Linked DNA regions of Homo sapiens. The protein of the gene in region 1 purifies or fractionates together with the protein of each later gene. This does not show direct contact. Each region holds a gene or a part of one and is shown on either strand. Other genes may lie near its edges.

Evidence for each region.
Region 2: the proteins of ETFA (region 1) and TPM4 fractionate together in Homo sapiens (co-fractionation; one large-scale study listed by BioGRID). This does not show direct contact.
Region 3: the proteins of ETFA (region 1) and NUP210 fractionate together in Homo sapiens (co-fractionation; one large-scale study listed by BioGRID). This does not show direct contact.
Region 4: the proteins of ETFA (region 1) and TAGLN fractionate together in Homo sapiens (co-fractionation; one large-scale study listed by BioGRID). This does not show direct contact.

Annotation. Positions count from the first base shown.
Region 1 is NC_000015.10:76,280,470-76,283,969, forward strand, and holds part of ETFA (electron transfer flavoprotein subunit alpha, mitochondrial), read right to left. Parts: intron 3,357-3,500; coding exon 3,288-3,356; intron 1-3,287. UniProt on the Homo sapiens protein: Heterodimeric electron transfer flavoprotein that accepts electrons from several mitochondrial dehydrogenases, including acyl-CoA dehydrogenases, glutaryl-CoA and sarcosine dehydrogenase.
Region 2 is NC_000019.10:16,093,495-16,096,994, reverse strand, and holds part of TPM4 (tropomyosin alpha-4 chain), read right to left. Parts: intron 3,460-3,500; coding exon 3,397-3,459; intron 3,312-3,396; coding exon 3,242-3,311; intron 1,732-3,241; coding exon of another isoform or gene 1,649-1,731; exon of another isoform or gene 251-1,648; intron 1-250. UniProt on the Homo sapiens protein: Binds to actin filaments in muscle and non-muscle cells. Plays a central role, in association with the troponin complex, in the calcium dependent regulation of vertebrate striated muscle contraction.
Region 3 is NC_000003.12:13,413,823-13,417,322, forward strand, and holds part of NUP210 (nuclear pore membrane glycoprotein 210 precursor), read right to left. Parts: intron 1-3,500. UniProt on the Homo sapiens protein: Nucleoporin essential for nuclear pore assembly and fusion, nuclear pore spacing, as well as structural integrity.
Region 4 is NC_000011.10:117,205,167-117,207,964, forward strand, and holds the end of TAGLN (transgelin), read left to right. Parts: 3' UTR 1-830; coding exon of another isoform or gene 831-1,190; 3' UTR 1,191-1,514; coding exon of another isoform or gene 1,515-1,632; 3' UTR 1,633-1,900; coding exon of another isoform or gene 1,901-1,994; 3' UTR 1,995-2,298; downstream 2,299-2,798. Other genes in the region: PCSK7 (proprotein convertase subtilisin/kexin type 7 preproprotein), read right to left, coding at 831-1,190, 1,515-1,632, 1,901-1,994. UniProt on the Homo sapiens protein: Actin cross-linking/gelling protein. Involved in calcium interactions and contractile properties of the cell that may contribute to replicative senescence.

The DNA of each region.
Region 1 (3,500 bases):
ACCCTGGTCCAAACTATGAGTATCTCCCACCTAGACGACTGATATAGCCTGCTAATTGATCTCCCCATTACTATACTTACCCCCTACAGCTTATTCACAAAACTGCAGCCAAAGTGATCCTTTAAAAATGTGTTAGATCATGTCATTCTTCTGCTCAAACCTTGAAATGGTTCCCCATTTCATTCAGAGAAAGAGCAATCTCTACAATGTCCTATAAGGCCCTATGTGATCTGGTCTTGTGTTGCCTCCCAATTTTATCTCTTGCTACTTTCTCTTTTGCACTTTCCATTCCAACACTGGCCTCCTTCCTATTCGTCAAATAGGCCAGATGTGTTCCTGCGTTAGACAGGCTCTGTGCACTTTACTAGTTGCTCTGGTCTGGAACACTCTCCCTCAGATCTCCTCATGGGTCGCTTCCTCACCTCCTTCAAACCTTTGTTCAGATGTCTTTTTTTTTTTTTTTTTTTTCAGACAGTGTCTCTGTCACCCAGGCCGGAGTACAGTGGCACAATCTTAGCTCACTGCAACCTCCACCTCATGGTTCAAGTGATCCTGCCGCCTCAGCCTCCTGAGTAGCTAGGACTACAGGTACGTGCCACCATACCCATCTAATTTTTGTATTTTTAGTAGAGGTGGGGTTTCACCATGTCGGCCAGGCTGGTCTTGAATTCCTGGCCTCAAGAAATCCGCCCACCTAGCTAATTTTTATATTTTTAGTAGAGGCGGGGTTTCACCACGTGGGCCAGACTGGTCTTGAACTCCTGGCCTCAAGTGATCCGCCCGCCTTGGCCTCCCAAAGTGCTGGGATTCCAGGCATGAGCCACCACACCCAGCCAGATGTCTCTTTCTCATTAAGGCCAAATCTGGCTATCTTATTTTAAACTTCAATCTTTCCCTTCAATTCTCCACCCCCCATAACCCATCCTATTAGTCTCCCTAACACTTACGACTCTCTAACATTTTTTTTTTTTTTTGAGACAGAGTCTCGCCCTGTTGCCCAGGCTAGGGTGCAGTGACATGATTTCTGCTCACTGCAACCTCTGCCTCCCAGGTTCAAGCGTTTCTCCTGCCTTAGCCTCCCAAGTAGCTGGGACTATAGGCACGTATCACTGCGCCCAGCTAATTTTTGTATTTTTTAGTAGAGACGGGGTTTCCCCATGTTGGCCAGGCTGGTCTCAAACTCCTGACCTCAGGTGATTACAGGCGTAAGCCACCACGCCTGGCCCATATTATATTATTTACTAATCTATGGTGTTAAGTGTCTGTAGTAGGCAAGAAAATGGCCCCTCCAATGATATATTCACATCCTAATACCCAGAACCTGTGAATATTACCTACGTGGCAGCAGATATATATAAAGCTAAGGATCTTGAGAGGGAGTTTATCCTGGATTATCTACATGGGCCCTAAATGCCATTACACGTATCCTTTTTTTTTTTTTTTTTTTTTTTCCAGACGGCATCTCACTCTGTTACCCAGGCTGGAGTACAGTGGCACAGTCTCAGCTTACTGCAACCTCCGCCTTCTAGGTTCAAGGAATTCTCCTGCCTCAGCCTCACAAGTAGCTGGGATTACAGGTGTGCACCACCACATCAAACTAATTTTTATATTTTTGGTACAGATGGGGTTTCACCACGTTGGCCAGGCTAGTCTCAAACTCCGGACCTCAGGTGATCCGCCCACCCTGGCCTCCCAAAGTGCTGGCATTACAGGTATGAGCCACCACGCCTGCCATGTATCCTTATAAGAGGGACACAGAAGGAGACTGAATGCAGTCCCACAGAGAAGATGATATGAAGACAGAGGCAGAGGTTGTAGTGATGTGGCCACAAGCCCAGGGATATCAGAGTAGCCACCAGAAGCTGGAAGAGGAAAATAACAGATTATCTCCTAGAGCCCCCAGAGGGAGTATGGCCCCTGCTAACACTTCAACACATCTCTGGCCTCCAAAGCTGTGAGAGAAAAACTTTGTTGCTTTAAGCCACCAAGTTTGTAGTAACTTATTACTGTAGCCAAAATAAACTAATAGCACCTAAAATAGTACCTGGAATATGGCAGACACTTGATAAATACTTGTTCAAAGAAAGAAGGAATGAAAATAAACCCTGAAATACTACCATCTGATTATACAGTGTCAATATAATGCCTTTATTCTGACAAAACTATTACTGTTTCTATGGGTACACGTGTTATGTAATAGAAATTTCGCACAGGAAAACCACAGAAAGTTACAGGAAAACCCTCGAAAGTTATATGTTAAAGTCTTAAAAGGAGGGTGAGATGACAGAATTGGGACATTTTAATATATATTCATTGTAGTGATTGTGTAATTCAAAAATAATCAAATGTCTTTAAAAAGATTTTTTTTCAAAACAGGGTCTCAATTAGGTTGCCTAGGCTGGTCTCAAATTCCTAGGTTCAAGCAATCCTCCTAACTCAGCCTCCCAAGTAACTGGGATTACAGACACATGCTACTGTGCCTGGCTTAAATTTTTTTGGTTTTTCAAAAAACATCACTCCCTTCTCATCAATGTACTTTTAGCAATAGGTTCTACCTTACCTATAAATGGTTAACTACAATTCTATATTTTTAACTACAAACTTAAAAACTTTAAATGTATTTCTATTTGTATAAGAGTTATATTAAGACCACCAAAAAAAAGATGAAAAACCAGGGTATTCCTGAATCTGAAGTAGGCACTGAAACTAACATTTCATTATTTTGTCTTTTATTATTTTTGAGACAGGGTCTCACTCTGTTGCCCAGACTGGAATGCAGTGGCACGACCACAGTGCACTGTCGCCTCCACCTCTCAAGCTCAAGCAATCCTCCCACCTCAGCCTCCTGAGTACCTGGGACTACAAGCACACACCAATATGCCTGGCTAATTTTTAAACGTTTTGTAGAGATGGGGTCTCACTACATTGCTAGGGCTGGTCTCAAATTCCTGGGCTCAAGCAGTCCTCCTGCCTCAGCAACCTAAAGTGCTAGGATTACAGGTGTGTGTCACTGCGCCTGGCCCATTTCATTATTTTTAAAGTGAAGAAAAAAGAAAACCTACTAAGATTAGGCAAAGGTAAGAGATACTAGGAGGCCTTCTCCTCACTGAATGCTATATACCATTTACTTGGAGGCTTAAGAAAAACTGGTTCAGAGAGAAAAACTGAAAAATCCGGAAAAGTAAAATAATTTGTAGGGCTGAAAGACTTACACAAAAATGAAATAATGAAGAAAAAATATTTCCAACAAAAAGGGAATATCTTTCTACTAAGGAAAATAACTTTACCTGCAGCATGTAGTTGATCTGCCAAGTCATATAACAACTTAAAGTTCTCTCCACTCTTCAAGCCTCGACCTCATTTAAAAAGATGAAAAAAAAAAATTAGGCAAACATCAAATACATTCTGGAACAATTTTGCTATTTTATATACTGGAGTAAATTTTCATATTATGTAACTGCCATATTAAGCATGTCACCTCCTCTATAAACCTTTTCTGG
Region 2 (3,500 bases), on another chromosome or scaffold:
GCAACAGAGTGAGACCCTGTCTTGAAAAAAAAAAAAAAAAAAAAAAAAAAAAAAAAAAGAGTGACCTTGTTTTCTCCATATTCCTCATGTAGGAAAAAGCATGACCTTTTATTACCCACAGGTCAACCTTAAGAGCTATTCTAAACTAAAGCAAGGTTCCTGTTATAACTAACTGAAATATGAATGGAGATTGATGTTAGCAGTCTCAGGCAATTCTGGAATTCGGGAAAAGAATTCTAAATTCACGTCTTCTGACGTCACAGCACTTTCCCTGTTCATGGAGGCCCGTTCACTCCTTGTACAGTCAGTTTTCTAAGGGCAGGGCGTGGAGGTGAACTTCCTCCCAGGACTGGGAGCTGGATGAACAGTGAAGAGTAAAGCCACGGGAAGCCCCAGTCACCACACTCACAGTGTAACACAGAGAAAAGACACAAGAAAAGGAGGAAATGGAGATCAAAATGTCACTGCCGCTGTTTGAATCTGTAGCTCAAGCCCCATTCAAGGGGAGCCTCATTTTTGACACAGGCTTGCTGGTTTTTCCAAATCCCTGTTGACTCTTAAGCTGCCTAAGCGGTTTACAAGGATGAGCCTCCATTCACAACAATTTCTATTTAAGGAAAAACCATTGGGGATGGGCGCGGTGGCTCATGCCTGTAATTGCAGCACCCTGGGAGGGTGAGGTGGGCAGACTGCCTGAGCCCAGCAGTTCAAGACCAGCCTGGGCAACATAGTGAAACCCTCCCGCTTCTACAAAAAGTACAAAAATGGCCAGGCGTGATGGCTCAAGCCTGTAATCCCTGCACTTTGGGAGGCCAAGGCAGGCGGATCACAAGGTCAGGAGTTTGAGACCAGCCTGACCAACATGGTGAAACCCTGTCTCTACTAAAAATCCAAAAGAAAAATTAGCCAGGTGTGGTGGTGTATGCCTGTAATCTCAGCTACTTGGGAGGCTGAGGCAGGAGAATTGCTTGAACCCGGGAGGCGGAGGTTGCAGTGAGCCGAGATTGCACCACTGCACTCCAGCCTGGGCGACATAGTGAGACTCCGCCTCAAAAAAAAAAAAAAAAAGTACAAAAATTAGCCTTGTGTGGTGGTGCACACCTGTAGTTCCAGCTACTTGGGAGGTCGAGGTGGGAGGATAGCTTGAGCCTTGTAGGTGGAGGTTGCAGTGAACTATGATGGTGTCACTGCACTCCAGCCTGGGTGACAAAGCAAGACCCTGTCTCAAAACAAAAAAACAAAAAAAAATTATTGGCATGCAGATGCCGTTAGCTAACAGCGGTATCTGAGAGCACATGCCCAGTTTGCTTTTGTTTTCACGTCTTCAGAAAAGCATCCTGTAGGCATAATTTTCTTTTTGTAATAAGCTTTTCATTTGTGAGTGAGAGAGGCTAACCACCCACTTTGTGTTTCAGGCTATGGTTAAGGGCACACAGCTACAGCTCAAAGGCAGCAAGTGGAGAAAATGAGAATGAGGGGGCATGAAGAGGAGGACTGCCCGTCTTTATTTCGGTTGTAGAGTCACAGACACATCAGAAGAAGGCTCTGACGTTCAAACCAGAAGGCAGGCCACCGGAGCTCCTAGAAGCCCACAGGGGCGTAGGAGGCACCATGTGAGAAGGACAGAGGGCAGCGACCTGGCTGCCTCTCAGAGAGAGGTCATGTCGTTGAGAGCGTGGTCCAGTTCCTCGCTGATAGCTTTGTACTTGAGCTTCTGAGCGTATAACTCATCTAGAGGGCGGAGGTCCCCAGGGAGACAGTTCAGAAGTACAGGGGACAGAAGGCAAGGGTCGGAATGGAGTGCCACAGATGAACCACAAGAGGAAGAAAAAAACACGTGAGCAAACAAAGCACAGACTAGGAGAAAGCTGTGTTCCATGTGAAACAGATGAAGAAAACCAAAGATCTATGGAGTTGATCTCTAAGTGGTTTGAGGTTCTGCAGGGGGATTAGCCACAATGAAGCTTCAAAACAGTGGTAACCAGAAGTGACAGAGCTTCCCCCCACTGGTCCCCACCCCTCAGTTTATTTCGGATTTCCAATGACGTCACCCTGTCCAAAGGTCGTATTTTGGAATGGGGCATTTTCCCTTATATGGGAACCTCACTTCCCCAAAAAAACATTGGAAGATATGGTCTGAAGAATGTGTCCTTTCTGGGTGGGATGGGCAGTTTGGAAGATTCCATTTGAACCCCAAGATTCTGGAATTTCTGAGGCCGAATGTTAAACACTGGAACTCTTGAAAAAATTCTGGGAGAAGTGGGCCCCAGACTTGCAGACTAGTCTTTATTGCAGTCCCTACACTTTCTGTATTTCTGTTTTTTTTTTTAAATACTATGATAAGCTTTGAGCTCCCTGGGACAGAGCTTCTGCAAAAATGCAAGGCATGTAAAAAAAAAATGCAAGGCATCTATCAGAAATGAGCAAACAGAAGGAAATTGTGAAGTTTTTTTTTTTTTGAGACGGAGTCTGGCTCTGTCACCCAGGCTGGAGAGCTGTGGCGTGATCTTGGCTTACTGCAACCTCCGCCTCCCAGGTTCAAGGGATTCTCCCTGCCTCAGCCTCCCCAGTAGCTAGGATTACAGGCGTGCACCACCACGCCTGGCTAATTTTTTCTATTTTTGGTAGAGACGGGGTTTCACCATGTTGGCCAGGTTAGTCTCAAACTCCTGATTTCAAGTGATCCGCCCGCCTCGGCCTCCCAAAGTGCTAGGATTACAGGCTTGAGCCACTGCGCCTGGCCTGAGATTTTTAATTTATTATTAATATTTTTTTAATCAGAGAGAGCCATACTCTTTTCTCTATACTTGCTCATGGGACTAACTAAGCAGAGATATTTTACCTCCTGAAAGTGGCAATTCAATTAGCCAGGTGTGGCGGCACACGCCTGTAGTCCCAGCTACCTGGGAGGCTGAGGCAGGAGAATCACTTGAACCCGGGAGGCGCAGGTTGCAGTGAGCCGAGATGGCGCCACTGCACTCCATCCAGCCTGGGAGACAGAGCCAGACTCCGTCTCATAGAAAAAAAAAAAAAAAAAAAAAAGGGCCATTCAAGCCTGAATGCTTTGCATTATCCTATTCCAGTGTTCCAGGACATCCAGATATGACATCACTATGCGCTTTACTTTCCTAAGGCAAACAAAGCCCAACCCAGCCCCTCCACAAACATTCCCCAACTGTCCGTGGATGTGTCCCAGAGGGGAAGGCAGGGCAAGGCAAACATTTAGATGGTAACCTCATACCTTCCAGGTCATCAATTGTCTTTTCCAGTTTTGCAACCGTTCTCTCTGCAAATTCAGCACGGGTCTCAGCCTAGATAAGAAGAAAGGAGTTACTATCATGGCTTCAAGACCAGCCCCAGGAGAAACCAGAGCTCGCTGGGTGCCACCACACTCACCTCTTTCAGTTTGTCAGACAGAAGTTTAATTTCTTCTTCATATTTGTCCTCCTTTTCAGAATACTGTGGGAGAAACCAAAACACTGCTTTAAGAAAAGGAGGCC
Region 3 (3,500 bases), on another chromosome or scaffold:
AAAATGGTTAAGGAGGTCGATTATATGTTATATATATTTTACCACAATTTAAAATAAAAAAATATGTAAACCACATACAGACACCAGAAGAAAACTTTTATTTTGAGGAAAATTAAAGGACTGACAGTGAGTTTTGAAAGAGTGAATTTTTCTCATTCCCACTGTCGCATGAGGCCCCACTGGCACACAGAATGTGCTGGCGTCTGGCAGGCACTGCTTTTGAGGGGGTGCTCCCCACTCTTCACAACACAGGAACAGGAGGCAGGCAGGCCATAGGGGAACTCAGGGACCTGGGTCAGGCCAGAAAGCAACAGTGAAAAGAAAAGAGAAGTGAGAGTTGCACAAAGAACAAGGATGGGTGAGGGTGGTGGATGACACACGCCACCTCCCATCCACCCGCGGGGTCCAGCCCCTAACGGTGCCCAAAGGCAGTGTCTACAGAGCGGAAGCCACCTCGTGGGGCTGACAGAGCTCAGGCAGAGTGGGGGACCCACAAAGGAAGCAGGAAGAAAATCACCCAAGGCCCAAGTCAACCCAGGTCCACAGACACTTCCTGGCACTTCCCTGCTGCGGGCCTGGTGAAGGGAGTTGAGCAAGGCCCGGTCCAGCCCTGCAGGGGCCACAGCTACAGACAGCCCTCAGGGGCCAGGGAGAACGAGGCCCAAAAACCAGGCCCAGTCTAACCCTGCCCACATCTGACCTGGCATTCTCCTTCCTGTCTCCTAACCACAGCCCACAAGGTCCCACATGGCCCCGCCCTGCCAACCTCTCCACCCTCCCTCCCAGCCCTGCTGCCCTGGCCAAACGTGCTGCCTTTGCGCACTTCTGACAAGCTCTATCTCTCCTCCGGCCCTTTGCACTTGCTGTCCCCTCCAACTCAACCCCACTCCACTCCTAGTTCGACTCCCAGGAGGCTTATGCTGAGCGCCCTCCCCAAAACACATTCCATGCCTTGCAGTTCTGTTTCCTTCAGGACTTACTCCTGCCTCACATGCATCCACAGATCTCATCTTAATTAACCGTTTAACTCCGGCAATCAACTGTGAGTCCCTGAGAGCAGGGCATCTCCTGCTGCTTCACTGTCACATCCCAGGACCTCAAGTAGTGCCTGGCTCATAGTAAGAGTCACAGACAGGTGGGTGTGGTGGCTCATGCCTGTAATCCCAGCACTTTGGGAGGCTGAGGCGGGTAGATCACAAGGTCAAGAGATCTAGACCATCCTGGCCAACATGGTGAAACCCTGTCTCTACTAAAAATACAAAAATTAGCTGGGTATGTGCCTGTAGTCCCAGCTACTTGAGAGGCTGAGGCAGGAGAATAGCTTGAACCTGGGAGGTGGAGGTTGCAGTGTGCCGAGATCGTGCCACTGCACTCCAGCCTGGCAACACAGCGAGACTCCATCTCAAAAAATAAAAAGAGTCACAGACATTTGTCACCTCTTATTCAGTGACTCTCCAGCCCTCCTCGGTGAAATATGTGTCGTCCATCAGTGCTTGTCCCCTGGTGCTCAGGCAGGACGGGTCTTCACCGTGTGCCCTCTCCCAGGCCCTGCGGGAGCTCTGGTTTCTCCACCCCACTTTCTAACTGCCAGAAATGCCATCAAATAGGCCCAGATGATAACGCAATCGACCAAAGCCTGTGACTCTAAGGCCAGGCATAAGGAAGGAGACAGAGATTTGGCCTAGGTGTGTGGGGATGCAGCATGCACACAAATTGAGTGGTACAGGGGAAAACACTCTCAACGAAAAGAGCAGAAGTACAGGTGTGGGCTCAGGGAAGGCCAAGTGAAGGAGGTACAGAAGAGCAAACTGGGGGCCTCCCGTCGAATTCAACTCCCTCTTTTGGGTTGTTTCCACTTTGTGAATTTTTTATTTTGACTATGGGGCAACTTCTTACAGGCCCTGTTGCCTCACCTGTGCAAGTTTCCAGCATGTGACCTGCTGACGTGCCCGTCCCAGAGGCTCAGGGTCCCTGAGCCCAGCAGAAGCCAGCTAGGCCAGATGACACTCTGACTTGGCTCAGCGTGCATCCCTCACCCTTAGTGCCCAACTTCACCCACGAAGGCCTGTGAGGGGATTTGCTGCAGCTTCCCCTGCTGGGGCAGGGAGAGGGACCCAGGACATCCACACGCAAGGGTAGTGCTGGCCTCTGGCCTCCCACAGTCACCCCTCAGCAAAGAGGGACTCCCCAGGGGTCATCTGAACTGCCTGGGGTACAGCATGCCCCAAGGCCAAGCTCCACGGCATAGGGACCAGTGCCCTCCCTGGCCCTGAAAGGACTCCCATCTACCTGTTTGAGAATCCTTACACCTGTGACTGAGAAGTGCCCCAGACCACATAAGAGAGGGTGTACCCTGGTGCAGGACCAGGCCTGGCACACGTGTTAGATGGCTCCAAGGTGCCCAGGAGAGACTGTCAGGGGCAGGAAAGGAGAAGTCTGTGAACAGCTTGGTATGGCAGTCACTGTGCATGCTGTGTCTGGATGTTGTTCACCAGGCAGGTCCACATCCCCTCCCCACCTCAGCCAGGGGAGCTGCAGGTCGTAATTCAAAACAGAGTGTCTCCGCCAGAGGCCCGGGAGGTCGCACAACATCCCCTTCCCCAGGGGAACCAATGGCTGCCTGACAGTGGGTACAAAAGCTCAAAGCTTGGTCTCTTCGCCTGAAGGCAGGACAACCTGCAGGCAGCCTCCCTTCCCTATCCAGCTGCCCAACAGAGCACTTTCTCTGTAAACTAGGGCAGCAGAATCCTGCCTCAGGCTCCACCCCTGGGAAACCAATCTGAGCCACTCACTTTCTCCAAGACAGCGCCCCCTTGCTGGAGCACCCAGAATACCCTGGGACTCCATGACAGGGAAAGAATCAATGAGGAGGCAACTTCAACCCAGCAGAAAGGTGCTCAGACACGGAGCCCTCAGGAAGAAGCAACAGAGCAGTGCTTGGGCTTCAGTGCTAGCCAGTGTTGGCAGGGGAGGAGGTTCCCGAGGTGCCCAAATAACCAGGTTCAAGGCAATGTAAGAAAGGAGCTAGGAGAGGAAACATAAGTGACCGAAAAGAAACCAAAATGCTGCCTGTGATTGTATTACAGCTGGAAGATTATGGCATGATTTCTTTTTCGTCTGTTCTCCCAGTTTTTGATATGAGGTCGTTTTGTATATACCTTTAAAAGGAGCAAATGTAATATACTTTATGGAACACTTTCAATAATGCAAAATATCTAGAAGGAATCAGGAACTTGTCACAAAACCAGTGCTGGCTGGGTGCAGTTGGAGAGAATTAGAGCCTGGCAAATTAGCCAGAGGCTGCCAGTCCCCAGGTCTAATGGCGTGGGACAGGGAGGGGTCCCAGCAGCTCCTGCTCCAACTCAGTGTCCATCGCTACAAGACTTCCCAGAGATCACTTCCCCTTCTGGAGCTCAGGTTTTCCTATATGAAACACAGGCTGTTTAAACTAGGTGACCTCTAAGGTTCCCCTGGCCCGAAAACTGTCCAATTTTGATGTT
Region 4 (2,798 bases), on another chromosome or scaffold:
AAAATTCAACCAACTAGCTCAGAAGAGGGGAGAAGGCCAAGGTTGAGAGAAGAGTCACAGCCTGTCAGGCAGATAGCTGGCCTCCGGCGGGAAGGCCATTTCCCTGAGCACTTGCAGAGGAAGACAGGGTGGTGGCAGGACTGGAGTGGCAGTGGCTCCCAAGGCTCTCTCCTCCAACATGTGCATCTGCCATCTGCTCTGCAGTCCTGCCGCAGGATTCCCTAGTGAAGCAGCTCAGGCCTGGGGGAGCCGTGTGTATCCCAGCTGTGCCGGCAGCATCATACCAATCGTGGGGGTGGTGAAGGAGCCAGGGGTTCATTCATGGTTGGTTTCTGATCAGGCATCTTGGGAATGGATAATGGAGGCAGCCGCTTTCAGGACAGGCATGTCCAGGGGCTCCTCCCAGCCTCTACCCCGAAGTCCTCTTCCCAAGTGACCCCAGTGATGTTTCCATTGAGATGCGCTCCTGGCTATGGCAGGCACCTTCTCAACTTATATGTGGGAAGGGGTCCCCCATGCTTGGGGGACCTAGGCAGCTGGCTTGGCCCAAGAGAGATGAGGATGGAGGCCAAACCAAAGGGGGGCGCCAATCCCCTGTCCAACACCTTCTCACCAAAAGCTCCCGTTTGGCTGGAGGCAGACCCTGTGGCTCTGACCAGACTTCTCTGGCAGCAATCCTCCACCATTTGTATCTTAAGAAGGCCCTCACCCTCTTTGAGTGGAGTCAGAGGATGCCTCAGATTCCAGATGTAAGCATCAGAACTGCTTTCTGTCAAGAGCTCCCTAATTTTGGGAAAGAAGAGCCTGTCCCACACTGTCAGGCCCTGAGGTCAGCAGATCTGCTCCTCCTTCCCGTGCGGTACGTCTAGGTGCTGATGAGGGCAGTCCAGGGCGCTCTTGTTCTGGGACAGGCTCCAGTCCCCTTGCTCCAGCAGGTCTGGGGCAAGGAGGTCAGAGGTGGTGGGAGGGCCCCTGCTCTCTGTTTCCACTTCGTCTGGATCCTTGCTGCTGCAAAGTGGCACTGATTCTAGCTCTGTCCCTTCCTCCTTGGCTTTCCGGCTCCGATGGGGCCAGTGGCAGGGTCCACTCCTACAAACTTGATTGGAAGCCACATTCCTCTGGCTCAAATATACTTCCAGCATGTAGTAAACAGTCCAGAAGACGGTGAAACAGCCTACCAGCACCAGGGTCTGGGGCCGAGGCAAGCACCTACGTGAGGCACTGTTTCCCGAAGCCTACAGCCTTTCTCAGCCCAGGACAATGAGCTCAGAAAGTCTTTTTCCTTCTAGGGACTGCCTTTTTCACCCAAACTGTTCCCTCTGCCCCCTCCCCCGACAAGGCCTGTCCTGTAAGAGTTAGGCTAGCAGGGTAGGAGCAATGCTATGAAACCACTGCTGGGACCCAGGTCTTCCCAGTCCTTCACCCCGCAGGTCACCCTGAGAAACACACTAAGAACTCCATCCCCCAGACAGGACAGTCCCATCTACCCGCAGCTTGAGTCTTGGCCCTAGTACCTTGAGGGTGTTGGGGGTGATGGTGTAACCATCTTCCTCAGGAATTTTCAGCCCCGGTGGGCAGGGCAGGGCGAAGTCATCGTGCAGGTATTTTCCACTCATGGCACTCTCTAACAGCCTGTGGAGAAGAAAAGAGGTGAGGATGCCCCACTGACTATGGTTCCTATACCATCTGCCCTCACCCATTTTCCTGCCTTACAGGTGAAGACAGGGAAGCCCCACAGCAAAAAGGAGAGGCCCAGACTGTGAGTTCCCAGCCCGGGGCTCCATCTACCGGCTTGACGCTGGAACTGGGAAGCACAGCTGGGGTTCAGAGGGCGATGGGCTCCCTAGGCGGCCCTTCCCCTGTGACTGGCCTTCCCTCTGACACATGCGGCTTTACCCACCTTTGTCTGTCCCTGATGTCTACTGCACTCCACACAGAGCCATATAGGGTCAGCTGCCATTGCCGGAGGATGCCGACCTGGAATGACTCATCCCCTAGGGCAGCAAGGGGCAGCTCGTGAGCCACGCCCCTCTGTCAGCCATGCCAGACAGCAGAGGCCCTGCCCGCCCTGCCACCCAAAGGGGCTCAGGCCACATGGTCTGCTCCAGGAGCTGCCTCACTGTGTCCCACTGACCCCAGGTTCTGCAGAAGGGCCTCACTGGGTGCCCTTAGGGATGGAAAGGGTTGAAAGGCTGTACTCCAAAGCAGAGTCTTGCTTTTCTCTCCCGTATTTTGGGGGTTCAGCTGGGATTAGAAAAAAATGTCTTTCCACCAAATTAAAGAAAGCTTTGAAAACCACTGGCCTAGAGAATACCTAACTGACTGGAGGATGGGAGGGTGGAGCTCAATTTCCAGTCTATAGGCTGATACTAAAGATATTCACAATTCATGGATATTGTGGCCTTCACTGATATGGTGACCTTCCACAAGTCACCTCAAACCTCTGGGCCAGTTTAAAAAAAATGGTGAAATGAGTCCTGCCCTTACCTGCCTACCGGGGCTGGCCGAAGGATGGTTATACGTAAAAGGACTTGAAATGTGGTTTCGACAAGGACTTTTTGTTGCTATCCTGAGGAAAGATGGATGGGTCACTCCTCCAGGGAATATGAGAGGTAGTATAAATGAACAGTTGCAGAGAGCAATGCCCATTTCACGGATGGGCACACTCTTGGCATCAACTCTCTTGGTCCAATGGCAACCCTATATATTGCACACGGGACACTTTCTGTGGGGACTCTGAGATGCAGAGGGACCAGATAACAAGCAGGAAAGGTAGGGCCTGGTGTGAGGGCACGAGA